Linked DNA regions of Homo sapiens: all the other regions are linked to region 1. The links come from fine-mapping of genetic effects on gene expression. A gene starts in region 1. Each other region holds a variant in brackets. All regions are shown on one strand. Distances are between the middles of the regions.

Evidence for each region. PIP is the estimated chance that this variant, and not a neighbour inherited with it, causes the effect. A credible set is the group of variants that fine-mapping cannot tell apart.
Region 2: its variant is the best candidate, but not a certain one, in a credible set for the expression of XXYLT1 in prostate (GTEx, PIP 0.88).
Region 3: its variant is the best candidate, but not a certain one, in a credible set for the expression of XXYLT1 in whole blood (TOPMed, PIP 0.66).
Region 4: its variant is the best candidate, but not a certain one, in a credible set for the expression of XXYLT1 in blood mononuclear cells (TOPMed, PIP 0.61).
Region 5: its variant is the best candidate, but not a certain one, in a credible set for the expression of XXYLT1 in nasal epithelium (TOPMed, PIP 0.63).

What each region holds. Positions count from the first base shown.
Region 1 is chr3:195,268,605-195,272,721 of GRCh38, forward strand. XXYLT1 (xyloside xylosyltransferase 1) reads right to left here and starts at 2,555. Exons shown (of 4, transcript NM_152531.5): 1 at 1,951-2,555. The coding sequence starts at 2,454. RefSeq lists an enhancer at 1,794-2,585 and silencers at 1,836-2,015, 2,176-2,705, 2,956-3,185.
Region 2 is chr3:194,529,495-194,533,611 of GRCh38, forward strand. It overlaps the pseudogene RNU6-1101P. Among named protein-coding and RNA genes, the nearest start is that of ATP13A3-DT, 44 kb to the left of the region's middle. The variant A/G (reference allele first, on the strand shown) is at 1,661.
Region 3 is chr3:195,177,852-195,181,968 of GRCh38, forward strand. The region is part of intron 2 of XXYLT1 (xyloside xylosyltransferase 1); the gene reads right to left. Among named protein-coding and RNA genes, the nearest start is that of XXYLT1-AS2, 32 kb to the left of the region's middle. RefSeq lists enhancers at 2,207-2,784, 2,785-3,362. The variant GAC/G (reference allele first, on the strand shown) is at 2,533.
Region 4 is chr3:195,066,075-195,070,191 of GRCh38, forward strand. XXYLT1 (xyloside xylosyltransferase 1) reads right to left here. Exons shown (of 4, transcript NM_152531.5): 4 at 2,210-4,037. The coding sequence ends at 3,641. Among named protein-coding and RNA genes, the nearest start is that of XXYLT1-AS1, 26 kb to the right of the region's middle. RefSeq lists an enhancer at 2,258-3,457. The variant T/C (reference allele first, on the strand shown) is at 2,360.
Region 5 is chr3:195,078,783-195,082,899 of GRCh38, forward strand. The region is part of intron 3 of XXYLT1 (xyloside xylosyltransferase 1); the gene reads right to left. Among named protein-coding and RNA genes, the nearest start is that of XXYLT1-AS1, 14 kb to the right of the region's middle. RefSeq lists enhancers at 242-758, 1,563-1,642, 3,534-3,703. The variant G/T (reference allele first, on the strand shown) is at 1,931.

The DNA of each region.
Region 1 (4,117 bases):
AAAAAAAAGAAGTAACGGGAGCAATTTTATGCCAGGACTGATAACCCCTTATCCAATCACTGACATCTGGCTAGAAGTCCCCAGACACTAAACCCTCACCCCTCAACAGAGGAGGTATCAGTTCCCTCTGGTCATTTGCAGCTGCCTCCAGGCCTTGAGTGAGGCTGCCAGAACTGGGCCCAGTAAAGTGGGGTAGTCCGAGCATGAAACACTTACTCCAAGACAGGAGGGGCTCGGCCCTGAGGCTGGATCTACCCCTGGGCCAATATTTCTGGTGCCAACTAAGAGTGCCAGGCATTGTACATAGGGATGGATGATAAGACATGATACAGTCACAGCACCAGGGAAGTAGAAAAGGAAAGAAGGGACGCTTCCTTGGCTCCAAGGAGGGGATGGTATCTGAAGATGGGCAAGACTTGGAGATGGAGAGAAGGAGCACCCCAACAGTGGGAATGACAAAAGCAAAGGCAAGTAGGCTGGAAAGCACTGGCTGTGCAGCTAGCGCTGCAGCGGGAGCTGGGGACAAGGGGACAGAGATCCGGCAACGGTGCAGAGTAGGCCCAGAAGAGATGACAATGCTATCTTCAAGGCGGTGTTTGGAGACCTGGTCAAATCCCAAGATCTGCCCAGACTGACCCTATGGCCAAGGGCCCTCAGTTTTCTACCGTGAACTAGTGCAAAGTTTCTCAAATATTAGGGTCATTAGGATCACCTGGGACAGGTTGCCAGGCTCCTCCTCCAGCGAGGACCTTCAGAGGTCCCAGGGTCTAGGGACTTTCTCAGGAGAGGTGAAAGCTGAGTAAAGAATGGCCAAGGGCCCAAGAGGACACTGTGGGCAGACAGTACAGCATGTATAAGGCCCACTCCCTACATAGCTAAGGTATGAGGTGCATGTAGACAAAGGAGGAGAGGTGAAGCCAGAGAAGTGGACCAGGCTCACAACACAACAGCCCTACCAATAAACTGGGACTTCACCCCGTAGGCAACAAGGAGCTATCAGAGACTCCCGAAGCCTGTAGGATCCTGGCAACAGCTCCCCTAGTCACTCACATAATACAACTCCTGTCTCAGCATGCTTCCCCAACCAACATCAGTCTCCACCCTTTAATATTACCTACTACTCCTTAAAATCTGGCCTCGGATCCCCTCTGTACAACTATTAGGTCAAAATCAAATAAGCAATTTGACCTAGGCAATTCACACTATGTCAGAAACACATCTCAGACAAGGAGAGCCAGGCAGTGAAGACAGATGATAAACAGAGATGGAAGCTGTCATGGAGGCAGACTGGTCCAGCCTGGGACAAGGCGGCCAGCTGTGCTCTCCCCAGATCATATCTGTTCCTCTTGAGCTTTCTCTTCCTCATTCGGAGGAACTCCAGGCTTCTCTAAATGGGTTCATGACCCTTGGAGGAAGGGGAAAAAGGGACACAGAGAGGAGATAAGATGGTTCACAATGAGTTTGACCAGATCCTACTGAAATACCTTAAGAGCAATGAGAAGTGTCACTGCAACTTCAACACTTCCAGAGGCCTCACCAAGGCCCTCTCCAGTTGCTCAGGATGACTACTGGTGACCAGTCCCATCCTCAGAAGTCAAAAACTGAGGAACATAAACAGAGGTGCAGACTCTGAAGGCAGTGCTGAACCCTGCAACGTTAGCAAAATGGGGGCGCGCGGACTCTCCTGGGGGCTGCGCTTAACTGGGGGAGAGGAAAACGAGGCGGTCATTAAAAACGCAGCTCCACTCCTCAGCACCAGCTGAGGGCGTCTGGCTCCCGGACACGCCCCCGAACGAGCCCTCCCGCAGGTTGTGAACACTACATTGCAAGCGGGCAGCTCAGGGAAGATCCTACCCGCTAGTTCCCCGGATCCCCTCCGGGAGCGCAAACTGACCTCGCCTAGGATGGGGTGGGCCACCCACCGGGAGCCCCCAGCCGCGGCCCGCTCACCTTGCACTTGAAGCCAGCGGCGGGCGGCAGGAGCTCCCGCAGCAGGCCCTTGGCCACCTCGCGGCTGGCCTCCTCGCTCACGAAGTGAAGGTTAAGCACCTCGTGCGCCTCGAACTTGGCGAGGCGCAGCAGTGAGCGCAGCGCGACGCGGGCCTTGGCCTGCAGCGCGGCATTGTGCTCCGCCTTGGTGAACATCATCAGCAGGTGGTAGTCCACCGGCCCGGCACCGCCGCCCTCCAAGCTCTTGGCCTTCGCGCCGGGGGCTGGCGCCACGGAGCCCCGCGCTAGCTCCAGCGCGGGCGGCGAGGGCGCGGCGGGAGCCCCGGCGCGGGCCTCCTTCAGCCTCTTGGTGGCGCTGGAGAAGGTCTCCCGGCCTGAGCCGAGGTAGTAGAAGGCGCAGACGGCCAGCGCCGCGGCCAGCAGCAGGGCGCAGTAGTGGGAGCGCACAGCGCCCAGGCGCGCCATGGCCCGAGCGCATGGGAGCCCGCCTCGGAGGAGGCCCATGCGCTACGAGACCGCGGCGCCAGCGGTGCCAGCAACGCGGGAGAGCCCTCGGGTACCCGGACGCCGGCGGCCACTTAGCCCCGGCGCCAGGCGGCGGCCATGAAAGGGGCGGGGCCGCGCCGCCTGGAGCCAATCGCGGGCGCCGGTGCGCGGAGGGGCGGGGCCGGGCGTGCCGAAACCGCTGGGTCCTAGGTTCCAAGGGTATTAGAGGAGGGGTTAGGGTGGGATCCGGCGCCCGGCGTTGGGAGGGGGGGATTCCGGACTCCAGCGTGCTGAGGGCTGGCCCGCTGTCCCGGCTGAGAAATGGCGCCCTACGCGGCGAGCCCCAGAGGATATCCAAGCTGAGTGTTGAAGGGAATGGAGGCGCCCGAACAGAGGAACTTAGGTTAGCCAAAAGCGAAGCTGGAGGCACCAAGAGGTAAAACTTTAATCTCTGCACCTTTTTTCCCTCAATTTCTTGGAGGCTTTAAGCCGTCTCGGCCTCTCCCTGCACACGAGCTGCAGCTAGGCAATTTAAACCGGCAGCTCCTCCCTTTTCCCCCGCCCTGGGAGGAAATGGCCCGGGCCGCACGTCGCGCCGGAGGCCGAGCGGAGGGAGGCTGGAGGATGTGGCCAGCAGGGGGCCCCCGCCGCCCGCACGAACCTGCGAGGCTGCTCCCCGAGCCCCAGCACCGCAAAGCCCTGGAGGGCGACATTCATCCACTTTTGTTTTATAAACAGACTTTTAACACTTTATCAAGAGCCTCCTTGAGGGTACCAGGGAGTTTTGCACGCCGAGGTCACGTGCCCAAAGTCACACAGCTAGCCAGTAGCAATTTTGACCCTAGGCAGTTGCACACTGCTAACTAGATAAAAACGTACTAACTTCAGTCTTCTAAGAATTGAGGCTATACCAGTAGTTTTTAAGTAAACACGTGCAAGTGCTGTGCATGCTGTCTAAATAGACAAAGAACTTGAGTAAGTACAGTAACCCTTCAGTTCTTTGGCCAAGTTCTCTGATTTCTGACCAGAGATTAGGTAAACGGTTTTTCCTGTTATTTCCACATTGTAAGGTTGCATGGATTATCCAACCTCTCTGCTTCAGACCTTGGCTTACATGTCACTACCTACACAAATGATCTCTAAATACCTCCTATCCAGTGTCTGGGCTAAGTGCCATCCTCAATAATTCTGTGAGGGCCACCTAAATATATGTACTACCCTAGTCTCATCTTTCTTCATTGCAAGAACACGTGACTCCAAGAGAACAGAATATACATTTGTTTTTTATTAACCACAATATACCCAGTACCTAACACGGTGCCTACCACATTGGATGAGTCTCAAAAATATACTCAACCATTGAAACAGCATTTTTATTTCTAGAAAATCTTCCTAATAATTTAAGAATGTTCAAAATATTTAACCATAAGAATAAAGCAAGGCCAAGCATGGTGGCTTAGGCCGGGAATGGTGGCTCACGCCTGTAATCCTAGCACTTTGGGAGGCCGAGGAGGGCAGATCACCTTAGGCCAGGAGTTCGAGACCAGCCTGCCCAACATGGCGAAACCCCGTCTCTACTAAAAATACAAAAAATTAGCCAGACATGGTGGCGGGCGCCTGTAATCCCAGCTACTCAGGAGGCTGAGGCAGAAGAATCGCTTGAACCTGGGAGGTGGAGGTT
Region 2 (4,117 bases), 740 kb before region 1:
CAACATCTGACCTCAGGTGATCTGCCCGCCTCAGCCTCCCAGAGTGCTGGGAATACAGGCGTGAGCCACCACACCCGGCCAAAAATTTTAATTACATATATCCTTAAACCGAGAAATATCACTTTTAGAAGTCTATTCAATAAAAACAATTTCTCTGGTATACAAAGATACATGAAAAGGTTAACCATCACATTACTTGTAAGAATAAAAAATTTTGAGAGGCTGAGGTGGGTGGATCACCTGAGGTCAGGAGTTTGAAACCAACCTGGCCAACATGGTGAAACCGCGTCTCTACTAAAAATACAAAAATTAGGTGGGCATGGTGGCGCACACCTGTAATCTCAGCCACTCGGGAGGCTAAGACAGAAGAATCACTTGAACCTGTGAGGCAGAGGTTGCGGTGAGCCAAGATCATGTCACTGCACTCTAGGTTGGGTGACAGAGCGAGACTCCGTCTCAAAAAAAATAAATAAATTTAAAAAAGAATAAAAAATTGGAAACAGCAGAAATGCTCATCAAGGAAAGATTAATTAAATTAATTGTGGGATTGTGCTGCATCCATACAATGAAAGACTATGGAACTATTAAAAAGGAGGTAAAGCTCTCTGTCTGGAAGCCAGAAGTCCACAACATATAGTTAAATGAAAAAGCAAGTCGCAAAATAGTCTAAATTTATTAGCCCAATTTTGGGGTCAACTTTATTGAGGTACAATTTAAATGCAATAAAATTCACCAATGTTAAGTGCACAATAAATGAGTTTTAACAAATATACCATCATATAGTCACTACCACAATCATGAAATTGATAGGATATTTTCATTACCCCCAAAAAATTACCTTGAAACATTTTTCAGTCATTCTACACCCCTACCCTCTGCCTCCTGGCAACCACTAATCTGCTTTTTATAACTAAGATTTTGGACTTTTTTTTAGCACTTCACATAAATGGAATTATATAGTAGATAGTCTTGAGTCTGACTCCTTTCACATAGCATGAAGCTTTTGAGATTCATTCGTGTTTTACATATCAGTGGTTCATTCTTTATTATTGCTGAGTAGCATTTCACTGTAAGGTTTTACTACATTTTATATATTCATTTACCAGTTCTTGGGCATTTGGATTGATTCCAGTTTTTAATGAGTATGAATAAAACCACTATAAACATTTGTGTACAGATTTATTTAATTTAACTTTTTATTTTGAAATAATTATAGATTCACATTATAAGAAATAATACAGAGATTGTTTCCTTACTTATGGAAGAAAAGAAAAAAAGAGAGATCCCTTGATCCAGCTTCCCCCAGTGGTAACATCTTGTAAAGTATAGTAACATATCACAACCAGGCTGTTGACATTGATGAAGTCAAGACACAGAGCAGTTCCATCATCACTGGGACCCCTTGTGTTGCCCTTTTATAGCCACACTCACCTCTTTCCCCGCCCCCAGCTCCTGGCAACTATTAGTCTCTTCTCCATAATTTTGTCATTTCAAGAGTGTAATATAGATAAATGTAAGCATACAATATACAATATACAATTTGTAAAGATTGGCTATTTTCACTCAGCCTAATTCCCTAGGGATTCATTACATATGAGATTCATTACATATACACACACACACACACACACACACACACACCAATAGCTTGCTCCTGTTT[A/G]TTGCTGAGTAGTGTTCCGTCCTGTGCATATACCATGACTTGGTTTTTGGCTATTATGAATAAAGTCGCTATGAACAATTGGTGTGAATGTAAGTTTTCTTTTCTCTGAGATAAATGCCCAGGAGAGCAACTGTGGGTTGTATGGTAGTTTCATGCAGTTTTATTTATTTATTTATTTATTTATTTATTTATTTATTGAGACGGATTCTCCCTCTGTCACCCAAGCTGGAGTGCAGTGGCGAGATCTCGGCTCACTGCAACCTCCGCCTCCTGGGTTCAGGCAATTCTCCTACCTCAGCCTCCCGAGTAGATGGGACTACAGGCGCGCGCCACCACGCCTGGCTAATTTTTTTGTACTTTTAGTAGAGACAGGGTTTCATTGTGTTAGCCGGGATGGTCTCGATCTCCTGACCTCGTGATCCACCCGCTTCAGCCTCCCAAAGTGCTGGGATTACAGGTGTGAGCCATCACGCCCAGCCCGCACGGTTTTATTTTTAAAAACTGCTAAACCTTTTCCCAGAGTGGTTGTATCATTTCACATTCCTACCAGCAATTTTTGTGGCCCAGTTTCTCTACATCTTTGCCAGCATTTGGTGTTGTCATTATTTTTCATTTTAGCCATTCTGCTAGGCAAAAATAAAAAATATCTTTTTAACTTTTTTTTTTTTTTTTGGTATTTCTAGTACAGACGGGGTTTCACCATGTTGGCCAGGCTGGTCTCGAACTCCTGACCTCAGGTGATCTGCCTACCTCAGCCTCCGAAAGTGCTGGGATTACAGGCATGAGCCACCGTGCCCAGCCTAAAATAAAAAATATTATTATGCTACATGCAAAATGCAAAATAATATTTCACTGTGGCTTTATTTTGTATTTCCCTAATGGCTAATGATGTTGAACTCTTTTCATGTGCTTATTTGCCATCTGTATAGCTTCTTCAGGAAATGTCTGTTCATGTCTTTTACCCGTTTTCTAATTGGATTTTTTTACAAGTTTGTAAGTGTGCAAATTTGGGGGTTTCCTGAAACCACCCTCAGGTTTGGTACTTTGCTAGAATGACTATCCAAGTGATCCTCCTGCCTCAGCCTCCCAAAGTGCTAGGATTACAAGCATGAGGTACCACACCCGCCAAATAATTCTTTTTATATTCTTGATACAAATACTTTGACAGATACATATTTTGCCGATATTTTACCCCAGACTTGCCTTTTCATTTTCTTAACAGTATTATTTGAAGAGCAAATTTTTAAAATTTTTATGAAGACCTAGTCATCATATTTTCCTTTTTGTGGTCTATTTAATATATTAATATATGCCCAACCCAGGGTCACAAAGACGTTCTTCTGTATTTTATTCTAGAAAAGTTCTAGTTCTAGTTCTTACATTCCGGTCTACTTTTCATTTCAAGTTAGTTTTTGCAGATACTATGAGGTAAGGGTTGAGGCTCATTTCTTTACATATGGATATCAATAATTACAGTATGACATGTGCAAAAGAGTCCATTTTCTCAGTGAATTGCCTTGGTATCTGTAAGGAGTTACCCAAACCACACAGTCAGACGGAACAATCCCTATAAGATTGCCCTGACTTCAGACACCAACTGCGAGTTTGCGGCTTCCTAAAACCACTCTCAGATTTGGTACTTTGCTAGAATGACTCACAGAACTCAGGAAAGTGCTGTGTGTACCACTGCAGCTTTATTATAGCAATGGGATATAAATTAGAACCAGACAAAGGAAGAGACACGTAGGGTGAAGTCTGGGAGGGTTGCAAACATGAAACTGCCACTATCTTCAGGAAAGTGTTTTCCTACCAGCACTGATGTGTGATAGTCTGTTCAGAGTATTCCCAACCAGGGAAACTTACCTGAGCTCTGGTGCCCAGAGATTTTATTGAGGTTTTCTTACAAACACGATTGGTTGAGCCCATGTGGTTGTACTCAATCTCCCGCCCCCTGTTCCCTAGAGGTTGAGCTGATACCATGTGTCCCCCAGCTCCAACCGTCTTATCAGATAGTTGGTCTTCCTGCCATGGCCACCCCCAACATGTTATAGCATAAAATATCAGGTGTAGTTCCAAGGGCCCATCAAATAACAAAGACACCCTTAACACTCAGGAAATTCCAAGAGTTTAGAGATTACCTCCCAGGAGATGGGGAAAAGGCCAGGCTTCTCTATAGGAGCCACATTTCTTGCTATATAAAATCTTTGTCAAAAGCAAATATAAAATGTGGTTCATATCCACAGGTTTAGGTCATACATGTGTATGTGTAGATCTATTTCTGGTCTCTCTTTTGTTCAATGATCTACTAGATGGAATTTTCTATGTAAAGAATTCTGTAATGATTTTTTAAAAATATGGAACCCTTGCAAATTTGCATGTCATCCTTGCGCAGGGACCATGCTAATTTTCTGTCTCATTCCAGTTTTTTTTTTTTTTTTTTTTTTTGAGACGGAGTCT
Region 3 (4,117 bases), 91 kb before region 1:
TTGAGTCCAGGAGTTGGAAGTTACAGTGAGCTGTGTTCATGCCACCGCACTCCAGCCTGAGTGACAGAGCAAGGCTCTGTCTCTTAAAAAAAAAAAAAAAAAAAAAGAGGGATGGAAATGTTGCTTTTGTTGACTGGAGTATCAGTTACAAGGGTATATAAGTTTGTCAAAACTAACTGGACTGCACACTTAAGACCTGTGCATTTCATTGTATTAAACATTTGATCTTGATAGAAAATAAATGAAAAGGAGGTATGACAGTCTGACTCCATTTTTTGCTCTTTAACTGCTGACAGCTTTTTTTTTTAAGCCCCATCCCTCGCTCTTCCCCTTCTGCCCCACATCTGGGCAAGCTGATAAGAAAGTCTGGATGCTCTCCCGCTTGGCTGCAGCAGAAGGTTCAAACCATGTAAGCCCCTGCCCACACGGAACCCTCGCCCAAACCTAACCGCTAATCACCATACAATCCCCAGACCAGTCTCCTTTCTCCTTTCTCTTCCCTGTCTTTCATTTTCAGACCAGCTTGAGAAGCCGGCCCTGCTCTCTCCAGAAAACCCTATTATGTGGTCTCAACGTTCAAATCAAATTCTGGGTGGAGACCATCCTGGAAATGTGGAGCGGCCACAACAAAGGGCACACACAGAGGATTTGGTGCCACTGCAAACTCAGTGTCTCCAGCAGGACGCGGCCATCAAATAAGGACTTGGCGCAGCTCCATCAGCAGAGGCAGAGCTCCCTGGTTTCACGCAGGGAGCTGAGAATAGCCCTGTACTCTGCACTCCGGTTTGTGTCTGCCCTCTCCCAGTGCCCAGCTCTGAAGCACGGTCTTCACACCTGGGCCCCGTACTTGAGGGGAGCAGAGACCAACTGCTGTGCATTCAGAAGCAGGTATCTGGAGAGCAGGGAACCTAGAGATATTTCCACCAGGGAGCACATGGGGAAGCCGGGACTGTTTCCCCTGATGGAAGGCTCTCTCTGAATTTGTAAAAGAAAGGAAATAGGCTTCTTCATTGAGATCGAGAGCTGAAGCATCAAGAGATAAAAGCAGGTTTTGGAAAACATAAGAAAGAGTTTTCTAAAATATGTCTGAAGATGGAAGAGGCTACTCTGAAGGTGGCAGCTCCCTGTCCCTGGGCCTTCACGTAGTTTCCACTGGACAACTCCACACTCCAGGGAGGCCATGGAGGAGATTCAAGAACTCATGATGGGGCCGGGCGCGGTGGCTCACGCCTGTAATCCCAGCACTTTGGGAGGCCGAGGCGGGCGGATCATGAGGTCAGGAGATCAAGACCATCTTGGGCAATATGGTGAAACCCCGTCTCTACTAAAAATACAAAAATTAGCTGGGCATGGTGGCACGTGCCTGTAATCCCAGCCACTCGGAAGGCTGAGGCAGGAGAATTGCTTGAACCAGGGAGTCAGAGGTTGCAGTGAGCCGAGATCGCGCCACTGCACTCCAGCCTGGGCGACAAGAGTGAGACACCGTCTCAAAAAAAAAAAGAAAAAAAAAAAAAGAACTCATGATGGGATCGTACCTCAGAGTTTTTCCAGCCCCAAAACACTCTGACCCAATTCAACAACTCCCTTAACTCCACTAAAAACTGCAGTGTTCAATACTCTGACCAGAAAAGGATATGGAAGCTCAAGAACTGGTTTTCAGTCACGTCCTATTTACACTCAACTTGAACACTGGCCAAAGAATCAGTCGGCTGAAGAGGCCTGCGTGTGTGGAGGAGGAATGCTGAGGAGACATTGGCCCCAGAATGGACACCGTCAGCTTGTAAGTCCACTAGTCAATTCCAACAGAAAAACCCCAAAAACAGAAACAAACCGGAGGCAAACAGCCCACACCGAGAGGTAAGCAGTTTCTAACTGGGAACTCAATTTCATCCTGCCCATGAGAAAAGCACAAAAAAGGTGATTTTCCAGATTCCACTTGCAGCCGTAGAGATGTGGGACAAATTTAAAAACGAGTCACAATTAACAAAGGATTTCCTAAGTGTGGTGTTGAGCCAGGAAACCTGCCCTGCGTCGCCCATGCTGTGACTGATGCGTGGGCCCCTGAGGATGCCTCCCCGTGATCCCTCGGGCCTTTGCTTCCTCCTCTCCCTCCCACTGTCTCCCCCAACACAGGCAGGCTCCAGGCCGGGACTCCACACTGCAGGCAGAGTCGGGCCAGGGTGCGGCTGAGTGACGGAGCGCCTGGTGAGGGACAGAAGAATCTCTGAGCGGCCCCAAGCAGTGGGGTTCTGGCAGAGCACCGCTGACCCGTCATGGAAGGAGGGGAGCAAACAAGAGGGGCAGGGAGGGAGGCAGCTGTGTAGCAGGCCTGGGGTGGTCTGGCTTATGCACAGTCATTTCTAACGCCAGATCCCCGTCTCTGCACTGACACCGGGGGTGGTGAGTGGCACACTCGGTCCCCCAGTTACAGGAAAGGTCCCTTCCATCCTGGGGACCCAACTCATGAGGGCCCAGAAGGAAGGAGCCACAAAGGTCTGGATGGTTTATCCCCCTGGCCCGCCTGGCCCTCAA[GAC/G]ACACTTCCTTCGGCTGCAGCCTCGCCGATTCCCGAGCTGTTTCCTGCTGCTTTTCTCATTTCATGAACTTCTTTTGAACAATTTCCTGTTCCTTTTTCTTTCTATGCTCCTCTTCCTGGCTCTGTAGCCCTTGAAAAGAAGCAAACAAACAGATAAGGGTCAGCATCTGAGGCCAGACCCTAAGGCCCTTCCCAGCCCTCTCCAGAGCGTGATGTGGCCCCGTCTGGCTAAGAGCACCAGACGGCGGTGGCTGGAGCACCCCGTGCCACTGCAAACGTGACCAGGAACATGGGTCTGACAGCTCTGGACACACACAAGCAGACGGGAAAGGCGCCTGCCCACTGCCCCCACCCCTGCAAGCACACACCTGCTCGCCAGGAGCAAGGGCAGCGCCGGCCCTCCTCGGGAGAAGCTCCAAGGCCTGTCCCTAGTCCTGCCTCAGGACTTTGCTCGTGAGGGGTCCTCAAGGCCACTGTCGCCCAGACCTTTAGCTATACAAAAGTAAGTGGTATGGTTCATCCCTTCTTGGCTAATGAGGTTTGACCACAAACCAAAATATAAAATGCCCAACTGATTTCAAGGAATTCAGTTCAGACAAAGGGCTAAAGGGTGGTGACTCCAGGCCGTGAGAGGGAAAGACAAGGCCGGAGCATCTGAGCCTTTGATGGGGCCCACCTGCGGCCAGGTGTGTAGCACTTAGAGAACATGTTCTAAAAAGAGAAATAAAGGTAATTTATTTGAGAAGTCGGTGCTTGAGAACACTGTGCTTCTCCTGAGGACTGACTTGCTTCCCCTGAGGACTGACTTGCTTCCTTCTCTCTGACAATGACGGCTCCATAAAGGATGACAATCTCCCTTTTCACACTGGCTGTGTATCTGCGTGGCTGCGTGGCTGCGTGGCTGCGGGGCTGCGGGGCTGCGGAGCATGTTTTGCCACCAGGCGTGCCTTTATGTCTTTTTCTATGAGGTCTACACTTTCATCTTCTACACATTTACCCCCTGGCCCTGAGTGTCTACTTGGTTTTGTTTTTTCACCTTTGTGTCATTTTAGTGAACACCTCAAATTCTCTGAGGGCTGTGACAGGGGACTGAGGAAGTGGATGATAATAGATATCCACAATCATGGTGTGAGCAGGTAACACTGCTTGAGTGCTTACTGTGTGCCAGGTACTGTTGGAAGCTGTTCCTGTATATAAGCTCACTTGGTGCTCACAACAACCCTCGAGATAGGTGTATTTCCATGGATAATGTATCCAGCCATGTGCTGGATCCTCTCACCCTCATTTCAGAGGAGAAGTCTTGGGCCCAAGTGGTTAAGTGCCCACAGGTGGTATCTGGCAGTGCTGGGTTTTGCACCAGGGCTGTTCCTCCCACAGCTGATACCCTTAACCACTGCATAATACATGGAAATAAGAGGGGAAGATGAATGAATGGCCTAACTCATGGACAATGGGTAAACTGCCCAAGCTAAAGTCAGAGGTTAGCTCCTAATGAGCTTCCGTATTTTTCTTGAGAAAGCTGGTCACCCAAGGTCTCCAATAAAATATGCTACTACAAACACACTTTCTATCTCAACAAACAC
Region 4 (4,117 bases), 200 kb before region 1:
CTGTTGGCGGTCTGTGGTGTGACCTGTCAGCGGTCTGGGGTGTGATCTGTCAGCGGGCTGGGGTGCCTGTGCAGTGATCTGTTGGTGGGCTGGGTGTGATCTGTTGACGGGCTGGGGTGTGATCTGTCAGTGGGCTGGGGTGTGATCTGTGGGCGGGCTGGGGTGCCTGTGCAGTGATCTGTCGGCGGGCCGGGGTGTGATCTGTGGGCGGGCTGGGGTGCCTGTGCAGTGATCTGTCCGCAGGCTGGGGTGTGATCTGTCGGCGGGCTGGGGTGTGATCTGTGGGCAGGCTGGGGTGCCTGTGCGGTGATCTGTCGGGGGGCTGGGGTGTGATCTGTGGGCGGGCTGGGGTGCCTGTGCGGTGATCTGTGGGCGGGCTGGGGTGCCTGTGAAGTCATCTGTCGGTGGGCCGGGGTGTGATCTGTCGGCAGGCTGTGGAGTGATCTGTCGGTGGGCTGGCTGCCTGTGTGGTGATCCGTCGGCGGGCTGGGGTGCCTATGTGGTGATCTGTCAGCAGGCTGGGGTGTGATCTGTCTATGGGCCAGGGTGTGATCTGTTGGTGGGCTGCAGTGTGATCTGTCGGGCTGGGGTGTGATCTGTCCGCGGGCCGGGGTGGGATCTGTTGGTGGGCTGCGGTGGGACCTGTCAGCGGGCTGGGGTGTGATCTGTCAGCGGGCTGGGGTGTGATCTGTGGGTGGGCTGGGGTGCCTGTGCAGTGACAGTCTGCTGTGCACTGGGGGGTTGGAAGGTCGAGGCCACTGGTGACAGAGGGGAAGCTCCTGAGAGGTTTACTTAAAAGTAAATGAGGGATGTTGTTTGGCCTTTGCCCATTTTGACCAACCAGCTTATTGTTTTTTTCTTGCAACAACAAAATACACACATAGCTATAGACACATTTTAATTATAGAAAGGATTGCAGGGAAAATACCTTTATTATTGTGAGTCTAAAATTCTTTAGCCTTTAACTCACTTTTTTCCCGTTGAAATAATTGTTTTTTTAATGTGGTGTTTGAAACACCTATGTTTTTAGAAGTTGAAATACAGCAGAATAGATGCTCTTTTTATACATACGTGTGTGTGTAGGTATGTATCTATACACACGTGTGTACACTGATATACATACACATATATGTAATTTTAAAAATAGGATCGTATTAAACATATGATCTTACATTTTGCATTCTTTATTTAATAGCACATTCTAAGTATTTCCTGAGGCATTACATATTCTTCGAATAATGCCTCAAGTATTCTGTTATATGGATGAAGCATATTATTCATCTACCTATTCCATTCTTTTTTTTTTTTTTTTTTTTTTTTTTTTAAAGACAGACAGAGTCTTGCCCGGTCCCCCAGGCTGGAGTGTAGTGTCGTGATCTCAGCTCACTGCAGCCTCTGCCTCCTGGGTTTGAGTGATCCTCCCAGCTCAGCCTCCTGAATAGCTGGGCGTGCACCACCATGCCCAGCTAATTTTTGTATAGTTGTAGACACTGGGCCTTGCCATGTTGCCCAGGCTGGTCTTGAACTCCTGGGCTCAAGAGATCTGCCGGCCTCAGCCTCTGAAAGTGCTGGGATTACATGTGTGAGCCACCGCGCCTGGCCCCTCTTTTTCACATTTTAAGTTGCTTCCAATTTTCTTCTACTATAAAAAATGTGATAAACATATAGTATATGACTCTGTCCACATCTCTCACATTTTCTTACAGTCGACTTTAGACATAATGACCTTCATGAAGTTTTCATAAACATTATCAATAGCGTAATAAATCCCCCAATACAATGGCTGGTGCACAGCAGGCATTCAAGAATTGTTACCTATAAATAGGAAATCAAGTAGGTGAGAGAACAGACCAATTCTGTCACAGCAGAGGGCTGGGAAAGATATCTGCTCCACCTCTTCAGGGCAGGATGTAACTGGGCAGTCTAGGGTAAGAGGGATGAGAAGAAATGGGGATGCTTTTGCTCCCCAGTGCAGGTGGACCTGCCAATACCTAGAATGAAATGATTCCTTGCTTTGAACCAAACATGCCAATACTACCCTCTCTGACACCCTCTCAGATGTGCCCTCTCCTTGGTCCTTAGGATCTCCTGTAAGCACTCATCTTCATCAGGGGAGGTGGGGATTCCAATGGCATTGAGTACACACTTGATTCAGAGCCTTCATGCAGCTGAAACTGTGATCAGAGAACAAACAACATGAATCACCATGTTCTCAAAGATGATTTATTGGCTATCCTCACTCATGGGAAAAAGAAAAACGTAAATGAAATCAAAACAAAACAAGATGAAAATTGATACAAATGGACCCCTGGGGCTTTCACGTCTGCAGCCTACGTACAGGAGGCCCCATCAAAAGAAA[T/C]GACGCTTTAATTTCTGCTAAGGTCTACGGTCTAACGTGGTATGATAAGGGGATTTTTTAAACAAAGAAACTAGAATGCTTACTAGCCCATGAGTGACATGTCTTCCAAGCCCACATGGTCACACTTGGGAATTGCTGGGTTCCTTTTTGGTTTTTTTTTTTTTTTTGAGATGGACGTCTCACTCTGTCGTCCAGGCTGGAGTGCAGTGGTGTGATCACAGCTCAGTGCAGTGAACTCCTGGACTCAAGCCACCCTCCCACTTCAGCCTCCCAAGTAGCCGGGACAACAAGCACAAGCCACCACACCTGGCTAATTTTTAAAATATTTTGTAGCGATGGGGGCCTCCCTGTGTTTCCCAGGCTGATCTCGACCTCCGAGGCTCAATCGATACCCCCACCTCGGTCTCCCAAAGTGTTGGGATTACAGGCTTGACGACTGTGCCCGGCCTGGGCTTTTTGGAATGAGTCTTCCTGGTCCCGACAGTTCTCCTGCATGTCCTTGTGGTGGCCAGTCTCTGTTCTTTGATGACGAATTTGCTTTCTGAGTAGAGTCTGGTCACCTGGAGCTGGTTTGGTGGAATAAAGGACAATGGGGTTCTAGGATGTAGCTGGGAGATACAAGCTGTGAGTACTCTAATAATGAGATAAGTTTTCTTATGCAGGCCCCAGTTGGTCCTGAAGTCCTTCCTCAAAGAGGCGATCCTGAAACCTACACCAAGTGACGTGAGCATCAGGAGAATGCGCGTGCAGCAGCCTCCCAGGGTGAGTATGTGATGGGCTGGCATTCGTTTGGAAGCTTAGATACTGGGCTGGTCATTAAAACCTTGGCTTACCTTACCCGTTTGGGGCTCGATGGGTGCTAAAGCAGTTCTGTTTGTACTTTCTCGAAAAATGGAAGGCTGTCAATTTAAATTAAATTTATATTGGTCCAAAAAAGGCCGGGTCTAAAGGATTTCCATTCCTCAGAGGCAGACAGCAAGGGGGACCCTTTCTCCCCTTCCTTCTCTTCAAGTGCTTGCTTCCCAGCCCACTGGACATGCGTGTCCTTTGTGTCGCCTGCTCCCTGGAGGAATAAGGTCCCAAGCACCAGCAGTGCACAGGCCAGTCCTTGGCGGGTGGCCTCAGCACAGTGACCTGCCCGGCAGGAGGTCTCAGCACCTTAATCACAGGACTTCCCTGCGGTGTCTCTCTAGCGGGTCAGACACTGCCCTTGGGTCTGTCCCAAGGAACCCTGTCCTTCCCCCAGATCTGGAGGCCCCGGGGGCAAGGCACGGGGAGCGCCTAGTCCTCCGGGATGGGAGTGTTGCAGTTCCCGTGGTAGATCTTGACGTGGCCCTCACACCTGAAATAGGCCTCGAAGACGTCACTGTAGCCATGGTCCCTCCACCAGGTGCACAGCTGCCGGTTCCAGGTACAGTCCAGCACATGGAAGAGCTTGGGGTGCTCCATGCCGATCATGGTGAAGAAGTCCTGGTCCCCGAGGTGGCCGCGGAAGTGGTACTTGTCGGCCAGCTGCTGCACCTGCGCCGGCTCCAGCAGGCGGCTGTAGAGCGGGGACTGGCGCATGGCCTCCAGGTTCAGCAACATCACCCCGCTGTTGAAGCCCGGCAGCCCCTCGGGGGGCGGGCCCCCAACCCGGGTCTGGGGGTTCTCATGGCGGAACTGCCAGAATGTGTGCCTGTGGAGAGAGAGGACAGAGTTAGTCCGGTGTGCAGGGGAACCAGCCTGCCGGCCTGCTGCCCTGGGTCTTCACAGCCA
Region 5 (4,117 bases), 190 kb before region 1:
CATCCGGCTGGCAGCTCCTTGCTCGCCGCCTGGGATCCCCTTCCTCTCTGCTCCATCCCTAGGGACACCCTCAAGAATTCCAAATGCTGATGGCCCTTCCCTTCACCTTGACCACAGTGTCCTCAAACCACACCTAAGCTACCCACTCGGCTCTCCATGAACTTTGCGACCAGACGCACTCTGCTCCAGTGATGGGAACTGAGATCCCTCTCTGGCGGCAACGTCCTGACCCACCCTGCACAGAACCTGCTCATCAGACCCTTGGAAGCTCTGACCCCTGCCCCCAGATGGTCAGCCTCAATTTGCATCTCCCGGCCCCTTACCCAGTGTCATCTGCCCCCAGTACATCACTGCATGTGAGAATACAGCAGTGTGGAAAGCTGTAGAGGGCAAGGACTTGGAAGTGCCGCAAGAGGTGACAGTGACCTTGGAGAAGGAGAGGGATGGAGACGGGGAAGCCACACCCTTGGCCCTGGGGAGCGTATGAACAGCAGAGAACAGACGCCAGGGAGCCAGATGGCACCTAGAGGCAAACAGAGGACAGAGGGGAGGATATTTTCCAAAGAGGGAGAGCTGAGTATTCTGTACGCCAAGGGAAAGGGATGCATACATGAGAGAAAGACAGACTGAAGAAATACAGGGAAAACGGCAGGGTGGCTTCTTTGAGGAATGAGAATAACGATAATGGCTAATATTTAGTGAGGACTTACTATGTGCCAGGCCCTGTTGTAAGTTCTTAAATGTATTCAGTATAATGTTTGTAATAAGCAAACAAGGTAGGTACTATGATTTCCATGTTCTAGATGAGGAAGCTGAGGCAGAGAGCTCTAAAACGCTTGCCCGAGGTCAGCAAGGGGAGAATTGCCAGGCAGAAGAGCTGTCCGGGAAGAGGGAACCCTGGGATGTGGCTGGGAGCAGAGAGGGACAGAAGCGAGGACAGCAGCAGTTCTGAGAGGTCAGGAAAGGAAGACATGAAGTCATCTAAGGAGGAGGAGGGGCTGGGTGTGAGAAGGGTTTGAGAAAGAGAGAATCTGTTTACAAGGGGCTCTGTGTAATACAATCGGGAATGAATAACAGGCAAATAAAGGGTGAGGGTGTGGGCAGAGTCAGGTGACTCTGGGACTGATAAGGGGAAGTGTCCCGCTCATCTTCATGTCTGGAGGGCCTGGCGTGGGCATCTGATTCACAGAAGGGCCCCCAGAACTGTTAGTTTCAAATGGATGGATTAATGAAGGAAGGCATAAGAGATTCTAAAGCTAGATGGCAGGAATTTAGGAGAATGTTGGATGAAGGCAGTGGCACAACCGTTCAGAAAGGCAGGGGCGGGAGGAGAACGTGCCTCGGGCCCAGTCACTAGAGGGAAGTGAAGACAGAGAAGGTGAGGCAGAAAAGTTGGCTCCCCAAGCCCAGGAATCCACATCTGTGACGAAGTGCTCAGTGTGACAAAGACTAGGAAGGAAGGGGCCCAGATGGTGACCTGACCTGGGGATGCCCACAGCCCTCTGGACAACACCCTTCCTAGCGCTGGCCCTGGAAGGCACCCAGCCTCCAGTACTGGGGCTTGTAGAGGGAGCAGCTGTTCAAGCCCCAGTACTTGTCACAGGGAGCAGTTCAATTCTAGTGGGAGCCCCAGGACCCAACCAGGAAACCACAGAGCCGGCAGCCAAAGCTGGTGAGGACCCACATGCACCTGGCCCAGCTGGGCAGCCAGGCCCCAGCTCAGCTCCACAACCCTCCTCTTTCCCTGAATTTAAGGGAGCGGGGGTGGGGGGGATGGGGGAGGGTTTGTCAGAGTGAAGACAAAACCACAGAGGGTCACCTTCAGAATCGGCTCACTGTCCCCGACAGCCTCATGGCGCTGGAGGTCACAGGAGAGAGTGCCAGGACACATGGTGGGGTGTTTTCCGGGACAGCGAGCAGAGTGCAGCCA[G/T]GTGTGGGAAAGGCGGCAGGGAGGGTATGTGTGGAATTTAACCTTGTGTCCCCAGTTAGACTCCATCAATCCGCACCAGCGCCCTTCACCCTCATGGGAGGGGGTGTTCCAACCCAGGAGCCAGAGGTGGCAGAGACTCCGTGGACGTGGCTCACCCAGGCACGAAGGTGCTGGGCAGTATGACCCCCGGCTGCAAACTGTGTTACTTCTCAAGATCAGAAAAAGTGGAGCGCCCTCCCATTCCATGTAAGGGCCCCCACCTTTGGCTGTCCCTGATCGCTGTCCTACACAATGTGGCATGGATCTTGGCCAAGGCAAAAATAGTAATTGGCACGGTGACAGTGTGATGGGCCAGGCCCAGGCCCCGCCTGCAGGAGCCTGTCATGCTGAGGTGGGCAGCCCTTCTCAGATGTCACTGTGCCTGGGCTCACCTGGGAGCTCGTCAGCCACTGCATTTCTGACAAGCCCCCAGGGATCGCTAACGCTGCTGGTCCAAGAATCACACTAAAAAAAAAAAAGCGTTTTTATGATTTTTATAAAGAGATGAAAGCCACTGAGTTATTTTATCCTGAAAATGGCCATACAACAGGTGGCATAGCAATTTGCAAAGTATACACAGGTTCTATGCTAATACTTGTCCCGTCTTCTCCCTCTGTCACAGCGCTGAGCAGGGCCCGGGGACAGGCTTCCTGGAAGCAGCACAATAATGCTTACAGGTGCCAGGAGGGAGGCCCAGCTCCGCCACCTTCCATCGGTCTAGGGTGGAGGGAAGGCCAGGAGGCAGCAATATATCAGATTTCCACTGCCTTGAAAAAAAATGTACAGTGCACATACAGGTTAAGAATATAGGTTCTGGGGGCAGACAGTCCCAGTCCGGAGCTTAAATCCTGGTTCTCTGCATCTACACTGGAGAAGGCACTCAAACTCTCTGTGCTGCAGGCTTCCAAATATAAACAGGGCTGCCGAGAAAATGTTATGAGGTAATGCAAGTAAAATACTCAATACATTCAGATGAGATAAGGAAAGCCACAATGTCAAGTTCAGCGAGCAGCAGTGCAGATTCTCAATGCCAAACACACCAGCCTCCCCTGTGGTCTGCAGCAGCCAGTGGGCCCTGCAACTGGTCTACCTGGCTCTGCACCCACCACCAGGGTGGGCCTGGGCAAATCACTTCCCCTGCTGGGCGCTCGGTTCCTAAACCTATTAAATGGACGAATCGGCCAGAGGATTCTTGTCAGTCCTGAAAGCCTGCAGTTCTAGGCCAGGACTAGAAGCTTCCGGGGGGCGATCACTGAACTCCAACGATTGATGATGTCTCTTTAACTGCATTCCAAGTGCGTGATTACAACATGGATTTGCTGTTGTTGTTACTTGCTTTTGTTTCAAAAACTCACTTCTATGTATTGACAAAGCCTCACGATGGATCCAGTGTGGGGCATCTGGGTGGTTTCCAATTATGGGACCTCAGCAGTGTGCTGTGTGTGTCAAGGGTGGCGGGCGCGTAAGGCAACCACTATGCTTATTTGCTTTTGCAGAGTCCTTAGGTTTGTCCTATTTGGGTGTATGCAGATTCAGTTTTCAGGAAATAGGGGTGATGAGTCTCAGGCGTTTGCCTCCCCGTCAGCCCCCCTCCCTGGTGGTCTTCCTGGAGGGCTGCTGACACCTGCCCATCTTCTCTCTCCCTCTGGTGCTACTGTCTGAGCAGCTGTGCAGGAGCAGGAAGGAGGAATAGGCAGGGCCAGAAAAGTTCCCTGTGTCCCTGGGACTTCCTTCCCTCAGGCATTTCGGCATAAACACACGGAACCTCGTGGGAGTACAGCAGGAAGAAAAAGTGAGGAACCCTGAAGAAGGATCTCTCGGCTGGGCACGGTGGCTCACGCCTGTAATCCCAGCACTTTGGGAGGCTGAGGCGGGTGGATCCCTTGAGGTCAGGAGTTTGAAGCCATCCTGGCTAGCATGGCGAAACTCCAACTCAACTCCACAAAAATTAGCCGGGTGTGGTGGCGCGTGCCTATAATCCCAGCTACTCGGGAGGCTGAGGCATGACAATCACTTGAACCCCGGGGGAAGGAGGTTGCAGTGAGCCGAGATCACTGGGTAACAGAGTGAAACTCCATCTCAAAAAAAAAAAGAAGGACCTCTCCCAAACTTGCCCTCAGCCATAAGGCACCCCCCCTGCCAAGAGCC